2 separate regions of the Homo sapiens genome follow, and region 1 is linked to region 2. Evidence: fine-mapped expression QTL. A gene starts in region 2. The other region holds a variant in brackets. All regions are shown on one strand. Distances are between the middles of the regions. Region 1 has its middle 23 kb from the start of SEC14L1. Region 2 holds the start of SEC14L1 (SEC14 like lipid binding 1).

Region 1 (4,385 bases), 22 kb before region 2:
TATTTTTAAATGCTGTAAAAATTCACATTGATTTAAACGTTTTAGGGGTCTTTGCTGTTGCAAGAAATTTGTGTGCCTGAGGAATCCCTAAATAAGGCAGCCTGTTGTGAGAACTATAATAATGATGTGAGTAAAACCCGGAGCCAGAACCCAGAAGAAGGAGAAATTAATTCTGACCCTTAAATCTCGGTGTCACACAGAGGAAATGAACCGGGAAGGATGGTGTGGGATTGTGGAGGGCAGAGGTTGGGAGAAAAGACCTTCCAGTTGGAAGAGGCTCAAAGTAAAGTTCTGGAGTGGGAACTTGGGAGGAGGCACCTGCTCCTGTCTGAACAGAGAGCCATGTGACGGACCTGGTTTTCAGCCCCTGGCTCTTGGGGCAGAGTAAAACTGAAAGGCTCATATTTTTCATCATTGTTTGCATATTGTGTTTTACAAGTCTGAGAAGTAGTACAGACATAAATTTGCTACAAAGCCAATTTGGAATTTGAAGGGACATTTTTATCAGTAACAGGATGTTTGAACAAACTTGGAATTTCATGGACTTTTCCACAACCCTCTTTCATGTCTGTAAGGAGCTTACCTGGCAGGATGCTCTGGGGTAAGTGGGACTGTAGAAGTCCCCTGTCTCATCCACCACTGCAGCTGTGAGAGGGGGCTGGGGCCATGGGTGGGAGGATTTTTGGACCATGATTCCAGGCGGACACCCCATCTTTACAAAATTAAATGGTAAGCATCCTCTTCATTTGCTGTAATTGGCTGTCTCTGGTGTTAGTTGAGTTCCATTTACCCAACAGTTTTCCGTCTTTATCTATTCCCTGCAGTAAATGCAATGGAAGGCCGGGCGCAGTGGCTCATGCCTGTAATCCCAGCATTTTGGGAGGCCGAGGCGGGTGGATCACGTGAGGTCAGGAGTTCGAGACCAGCCTGGCCAACATGGTAAAACCCTGTCTCTACTAAAAATACAAAATTAGCCGGGCATGGTGACACATGCCTATAGTCCCAGCTACTTGGGAGGCTGAGGAGGGAGAATTGCTTGAACCCGAGAGGTGGAGGTTGCAGTGAGCCAAGATCGAGCCACTGCACTCCAGCCTGGGTGTCAGAGCGAGACTCTGTCTCAGAAAAGCAGAACAAAACAAAACAAAAAAAATGCAGCTGAAGTAAGCTCTACACAGAGGCACCGTTGGGGTGCACGTAGAAACCCAATCGACATCTTTCCAAGAGATTGGTATTTTAAAAAGAAATAATAAGCTATTCTCACAGGCCAAATGAATGTTTGACAGCCTAATCAATTGCCCTGAAGCTTTTAGACAGGGCTGATGAATTAGCATAACTTCACAGATCAACTCTTAGATGAGAATTTTCCCCATGGAGTTGGCCTGTCACCAATGAATTGCTCAAGAAAACCCAGCCCTACTGACCCTGGCCAGCTCCTGCAGGAAGAAATATTTGGTAGGCTTGAGGGATAAGAAAGTCTTTCATTCCAATGAAGTTGGGCAAAGGGGCTTCGTTTGGGGACCTTTTGGTCTTTGAGACTCCCTGAATATTATCTCCTGTGCCTCCTTCTTCGTTCCCACCACTTTAAGGGAGACTATGCAGAATGACAGAATGATTTGGCCTTTTGCAGTGGGCCTCCATGGGACCCAGCATGATAAGAAGGCCCTAAAAACAAGACTGCCCTGGTGGATCCCTCACCTCCCCCTACACAAGGCTGGCACTGAAGTTCTCTCGAACCTAGGACTGGGAGCCCAAGGCTTGGACGCCAAACAGCAAAGCTTCATCTAATCTCAGTCAGCTTCAGGGTCAACTGGACAGCGGGAATCATTTGATTTTTTCCATCTGGGCATACTGACTAGGCCATCAGGCCCACCTGGCTCATGCTGTTCATGCCAGTGTCCCAGTAGCTGGGAGCATGTGCTCAGAGCCATTAAGGGTGAGTGCGGCAGG[C/T]CGCACTGTGGAAGGGGCTGGAACAGCTTTTCCCTATCGTTTATCCTGAAGCCTTCTTACCTAGGCGGTCTTTCAAGGGTGCCCATGGCCACCTGGGCGTTGTCTCCGTCCTCCTTGAGGATTACAAATCAGTGATCTCTGAGTTTATCTCCCAGTCAGGTCCCTTCGGAGAGTGAAGGAGGCCTTGTTAATTACCACCTTCGTTCAGTAGGCACATATGGAGACTGTCCTGGGCCAAATGGAATGTATGTCACCCTAATTATAAAGGATGGAAAAGGGAACAAAGGTGACTCATTAATGAGACCTTGTAGTCTCCACCGAGTGGAGGACTGTCCCCGAGCCTCATACGTTCCAAGGGCAATGGACATGCTTCTGTTATGTAATATTCCAGATGCTGCCACGTCCAATGTACGGAGCACTCCAGTTGCTGGTCTGGGAATGCGCTTAACGTAAGGAAAGCCTCGGCCCCAACCAGAGAAGATCATGCTTTTTCTAAGTCAAGGTTATAATTATGCATTTCGACAGCCTCCTTCCTGTAATTGTTCAGATGTTCGTAGCAGGCGTGCATGCAGGCGGTGCACCTAGAAGCTGCTGTCAATCACCATCGCCTCTTTACAGCATTCCTCTCTGATTATGCAGGGAGCACAGGCTTTGACTGGCAAAGTGATCCCAAGAGGCTTAGCATGGGAAAGAAATAGCTAGTACTTTCCAGAAACCATCCCACCACCTTCAGCGGGATGAAGGAAGCCCTGGCTTTGCTGACTTCCCAAGAAGCATCCCAAAAGCTTGCTTAACATCTCAGAAAACAAACCTCTGCATGCATTGATGAAGGAAGAAAAATACAGCCTGTACAGGCCGGGTACAGTGGCTCATGTCTGTAATCCCAGCACTTTGGGAGGCCGAGACGGGTGGATTGCCTGAGCTCAGGAGTTTGAGACCAGCTTGGGTAACATAGTGAAACCCTGTCTCTACTAAAAATACAAAAATTAGCCGAGTGTGGGCATGCGCCTCTAATCTCAGCTACTTGGGAGGCTGAGACACGAGAACTGCTTGAATCTGGGGGGCAGAGGTTGCAGTGAGCCGAGATTGCGCCACTGCACTCCAGCCTGGGTGACAGAGTGAGACTCCATCCCAAAAAAAAAAAAAAAAAATACAGCCTGGACAATCACTGGGTCACCTGTCCTTAGGGATTACGGGCGAATTCCAGACTCTGTCCTACCCAGGAAGGAATACCTTTCAGGGGTTGGAAGGATGTTTCAAATCACACCTGGTCCTCATTGGCGTTAAATTAAACAAAGTTAGATGGAGGAGCACCATCAAGGAGCCGGTATCCCTGTGAAAGAGCAGACGTGGCTGTTGTCAAGGAGGTAATAAGCTCTCTGGCAGGATGAGAAGCAGTATTTATTTTATCCACCTACAGGATCAAAGAGTATGTATTTGATGAAATAATTTATGCTGAGTGAATGTGAAATATCATCTCTAATTGCAGGCAATTAATATTTTCACTGATAAGGAGAGGGCCCCAGGCTGGCTTGCCTCAAACGGCCCTTACACTCCAGCAGTTCATACTTCTATTATGTACATAATCCCTGGATTACATAAACCCACCTGCACTTAAACCTACCAGCTCCACCCACCCTTGCCAAAGCTGTCACTATGAGAAGAATTAGAACCTTCGCAAATACATTCTGAACCAATGCCACAGAAAAGGCAGCAGCTTGGAATGTCAGGAACAACTTCGGGAATCTGACCTTTGGGACATTCCCCAGGCTGCCCTGACCCTCAGTCTGGATTTGCCCTAAGAATACTTTCCCGTATTGCACTGAAAACATTTTCAGCTCATTTGTTATACTGCCTGAGAGCCCATCGACTGGAGATTAGACTGACAAACATCGTCTTAAAAATGTGAATCATGGCCAGGTGTGGTGGTGCACGCCTGTAAATCCCAGCACTTTGGGAGGCTGAGGTGAGCAGATCCCTTGAGCTCGGGAGTTCAAGACCAGCCTGAGCAACATAGTGAGACATCCTATCTTTAGAAATAAAAAATAAATTTAAAAAAAGTGAATCATGAAGTGCCCATTAGACATGTACATCTAGGCATGAAGCGTTCTAACCGCCTTGTTTTGCCACTCACGTAGGAGCTCAGCTAGGGATTTCCTGGAGCATGTCACAACCACAGTGCCATCACAGAGGGACGAGGACAGAGGTCTAGAACGTCGCTGTGTGTCTGCGTGTTCTACTCCCCAACTAGGGAATGCATCCACAACCTGAGGCTGCCCCGGAGTTTCTGATCCTTCTCTCCACATTCTTTTTTTTTTTTTTAATGAAGTCTTGCTCTGTCGCCCAGGCTGGAGTGCGGTGGCACGATCTCGGCTCACTGTAACCTCTGCCTCCCAGGTTCAAGCGATTCTCCTGCTTCAGCCTCCCAAGTAGCTGGG
Region 2 (4,385 bases):
TGGGCAGGGTGCTGTGGTTCACTCCTGTAATACCACCACTCTGGGAGGCTGAGGCAGGCAGATCACAAGGTCAGGAGTTTGAGACCGGCCTGACCAACATGGTGAAAGCCCGTCTCTACTAAAAATAAAAAAATTAGCTGGGCACTCGCCTGTAATCCCAGCTACTCGGGAGGCTGAGGCAGGAGGGCAGGAGAATCACTTGAACCCAGGAGGTGGAGGTTGCAGTGAGCCAAGATCGTGCCACTGCACTCCAGCCTGGGCAACAGAGTAAGACTCCATCTCAAAACAAACAAACAAACAAAAAAACAAAAAAAACCTAAGGAAAAAAATAGCAAAAAGTAGCCAGGCGTGGTGGCACATGCCTGTAGTCACAGCTACTCAGAAGGCTGAGGTGGGAGGTTCACTTGAGGCCAGGTGATGATGCTGCAGACGGCTATGATTATGCCACTGCCCTCAAGCCTGGGGAACAGAGTGAGACTGTTTCAAGAAAAAAAAAATGGAAATAAAGTTTTTTGTGATTGGTTGATGTCTCAAGTCTGTTTTTTCTTCAAAATGTTTAACTGAAGTATAATATACATATAAAAGCTTGCAAATCATAAATGAATGTATGGCTCAACAAATTTCCCAATCTCTTTTAATCTATAGATTGACCATTCCCCTCTTTTTTTCCTTTGGAATTTGATAAAGAATATATTTGTCTTGTACCGTTTCCCACAGTCTGTACTTTGCCAATTGTTTTTCATGGTGTCATTTAGCATGTTCCTCTATTCTGTATTTCCTGTAAACTGGTGGTTGCATCTAGAAGTTCAGCAGGTCAGGTGAATTTTTTTTTTTTTTTTTTTTTTTGACACGGAGTCTTGCTGGAGTCCAGCCCAGGCTGGAGTGCAGGGCAGGTGGCGTGATCTTGCCTCACTGCAACCTCTGCCCAGGTTCAAGTGATTCTCCTGCCTCAGCCTCCCAAGTAGCTGGGATTACAGGCATCTGGCACCACACCCGGCTACTTTTTGTATTTTTAGTGGAGACGAGGTCTCACCGTGTTGACCAGGATGGTCTCAAACTCCTGACCTCAGGTGATCCACCCACCTAGGTCTCCCAGACTGTTGGGATTACAGGCGTGAGCCACCGCAACGGCGTTAAAGCGTCTTTTGAAGGTGGATGTGATTTTTTTTTTTTTTTTTGGGACGGAGTCTCGCTCTGTCGACCAGGCTGGGGTGCAGTGGCGCGATCTCGGCTCACTGCAAGCTCTGCCTCCAGGGTTCACGCCATTCTCCTGCCTCAGACTCCCAAGTAGCTGGGACTACAGGCGCCCGCCACCACGCCCGGCTAATCTGTTGTATTTTTAGTAGAGACAGGGATTTCACCGTGTTAGCCAGGATGGTCTCGATCTCCTGACCTCGTGATCCGCCCACCTCGGCCTCCCAAAGTGCTGAGATTACAGGCGTGAGCCACCGCGCCCGGCCGGTGGATGTGATTTCTACAAACAAGCAAAAGCCAGTCAGACTGAATGTAGTGAATAATGTAGGTGACCCAGCTGGAAGATGATGGTTTGACGTGGAACACAAGGGGTGATGAGGCCATGAATGATTTGCTTGTGTGTCTGGTAAACTGGCTTTGATGGAAATTCCTAAACAGGTCCAAAAACGTTCTGTCCAATGGCAGCATGAAATGTACAGCCACTCAGGGTGACTAATGTGAACGGAACAACAGTGACTTTGACAGTGAAATTGCATGTTGGTTATAAAACCAGCTTTGCTGTGTGGGTGGGCATGCGAGGTGCCCCTTTCTAGTCATGAGCTCCTCTTAAGGACCCCAAAATGTCTCAGTGGTACCGGATTGAAAATTGGGGCTGGACGGTGCTCTCCTGCTGAAATTCGGGAGCTACTTAGCAGCCCCACCTTGGCACCCTCGTTTCCGAGGGGCAGGCCCTGGGCGCGCGTCTCAGTTTCAAGCCCGCGGCCCGACACTAGAGCCGTCTGGATGTGTTGACAAGGATGCCGCTGGGCTCCACCCGGGCTCACCCGGGCCCTCCCGAGCCCTGGGCCGCGCAGCACCGGCGTCCGCCTCCTCCCCATTACTCGGCGAGAATGCGGTCGGGGCACTGGCGCGAGCAGCCTGGTGCTCCTGAACAGTCAACAAGAAATGAGGAAGCACGGGGGCAGCCGCCAGGGCGACCAGAGGCAGGCCTCAGAGCAGCAGCCATACGGGAGGGCCCCGGTGGTTTTGACCTCCCGCAAACTTCCCTTTTCCCGCTCAGCCGAACCCCTCCCCTGCACGCCGGCAGCCCCTTGGGGCTTCACTCCGCCTCCGCCCGCTACTCGCGAAGCCCAGCCCGGCCCCGCCCCCAACAAGTGACGCAAAACTGGGAGGGGCCACGAGGACCTCGGGCACATCCAGCAGTGCGACGGGGCCGGCGCCTTCTCCGAGCTCCTCCCACGCTCGCGGGTCGGAGCTCGCGCCTGCGCAGTTCGGGCCCCGGGTGTCCTCCCCCCTCCCCTTTCTTAGCAACCATCGCCCGCTCCCGCCCCCGCTCCCTCGGCCGCGGCCGCGCACGCGCGCCCCTCCCGGCGCCCGGCCCCGCCCACCCCGTCACCCGTAACAACCACAAGTGCCGTCGCCGCGCCCCTTCCCCCTCCCGCCTCCCCGGCCCCCTCCCCGGAACCGGCGGTCGAGCTACGGTCGCGGAGCAGTGGAACCGAGACTGCCCCGCGGAGCCGCCGGTATGAGCGCCCCTCGCCACCCCGTGTCCCAGGCCCGGCCTTTCTGACAAGAGGTAGGCGCGTCGTCGCGGCGGGTCCGAGTGCGCCCTCGCCCCGGTCCCGGTCTCCGTGGAGTCCGGCGCCTCTCGGGCGGGCCCCCCGGAACTCCCGGCCGCCCGCTTGCTGAGCCTGTCCCTCCCCAGCCCCGGCTGCCATCGGCCCGGCACCCGAAACGGGCCGTGCCCCCGCCCCCCTGCTCGCCCTCCGCCCCCCTGCTCGCCCCTCGCCGCCCCTCGCCCCCCTCCCCCGCCCCCACCCCCACCTCGCCAGGCTTCCAGTTCCCGGGAGCCGCTTTTTGCTGAGAGCGGAGTTTCGGGTCCGGAGCCAGTGCCCGCCCCTCTCTCCCGTCGGTCGGGGCTTTGGCCCCGTGGGGCTCAGCCGCGCGGGACCCCTGCTGAGCAGCCCCGGGCGCCGGCCGCCCCTCGAGCCTGCTCGGGATGCGTTCAGTGGGTCTGGCCTTTGGCTCCTGTTTAAACAGCGATTGTCATGCAATGGAGGCCGTCCGGCTCCTGGATGCCACTTGGTCGTTGTCACTCCGGATGCCCGCGTAGGGCGTTTATCTGGACCAGAGCATCGGCAGCTGAGACCTGGCTGTGGTTCACAAGCTCGTGAATTAGCAGGTTCTTAAGTGAGTGTAGCCAGTTCTGCCAGGCGGTGGAATCCTGAATGGATGTTACCGTTTCTTAAACGAGCATTACGCTTTTTTGCTTCTTCCCCCAACTCTTGTTTGTACCCGGTTATCGTCCTCATATCTGGGAGAGTACCCTAAAATTAATATTCCCAATTAAATTTTTAAAAGATGATTGGATTCCCACTGTGCACCAACACTGTAAGGTTTGCAAAAGAAAAAGAACGTGGTCCCAGCACATCAGGATGTGTCAGTCGCATAATCAAGATGAATATTAGAAAAGCTTCAAGTTGAGTTTGGAGAACTTGGGAGTTTGGCTCTCATTCTCATGGTTTTAGAGGTGGAAGTCTTTCAAGATCATCTCCCCGAAAACCTCATTTTACAGAGATGAAACTGAGTCCTAGGGAAGTCAAATGGCTTACTCGTGGTCACCCAGAGTCATTCCTTAGCCGTTTTCACACTGTCAGATGGCGATGTTTTCCACCATGACCTCTCCTCTGAGAGGTATGCCAGACATACCAGAGAAAGTTCCAAACCTGTTTAAACCTTAGTACTATAGATGGGAATTCTATACCAGGCGCCGTGACTCATGACTATAATCCTAGCACTTTGGGAGGCTGAAGTGGGCAGATCCCTTGAGCCCAGGAGTTTGAGACCAGCCTGGGCAACATGGGGAAACCTTCTACAAAAAATATATATGGTGGTGCGTGCCTGTGGTCCCAGCTACTTGGGAGGCTGAGGCAGGAGGATCACTTGAGCTTAGAAGGTGGAGGCTGCAGTGAGTGGAGATTGTGCCACTGTGTTCCACCTTGGGCAACAGAGAGACACCCTGTCTCAAAAAAAAAAAAAAAAAAAAAGGAATCTTGGAAGTTTCTGAAATAAAATACATCTTGGTAATTTGTCTCTCTCTTTTTTTTTTAACAGCTAGACTTCGGGCTCCTTGAGGATATTCAGTTTTGTATGTTTGAATATCCTCTCACCATGTTCAGCATAAAGTACCA

The links.
Region 1: its variant is fine-mapped to the expression of SEC14L1 in whole blood (TOPMed, PIP 0.92).

The regions. Positions count from the first base shown.
Region 1 is chr17:77,116,228-77,120,612 of GRCh38, forward strand. It overlaps a transcript of SEC14L1 not described here. Among named protein-coding and RNA genes, the nearest start is that of SEC14L1, 23 kb to the right of the region's middle. The variant C/T (reference allele first, on the strand shown) is at 1,948.
Region 2 is chr17:77,138,338-77,142,722 of GRCh38, forward strand. SEC14L1 (SEC14 like lipid binding 1) reads left to right here and starts at 2,632. Exons shown (of 17, transcript NM_001143998.2): 1 at 2,632-2,770; 2 at 4,309-4,385. LOC105371901 (a long non-coding RNA gene) reads right to left here and starts at 3,102. Exons shown (of 5, transcript XR_934988.3): 1 at 3,019-3,102. RefSeq lists silencers at 1,916-2,125, 2,276-2,485, 2,496-2,945, 3,110-3,404.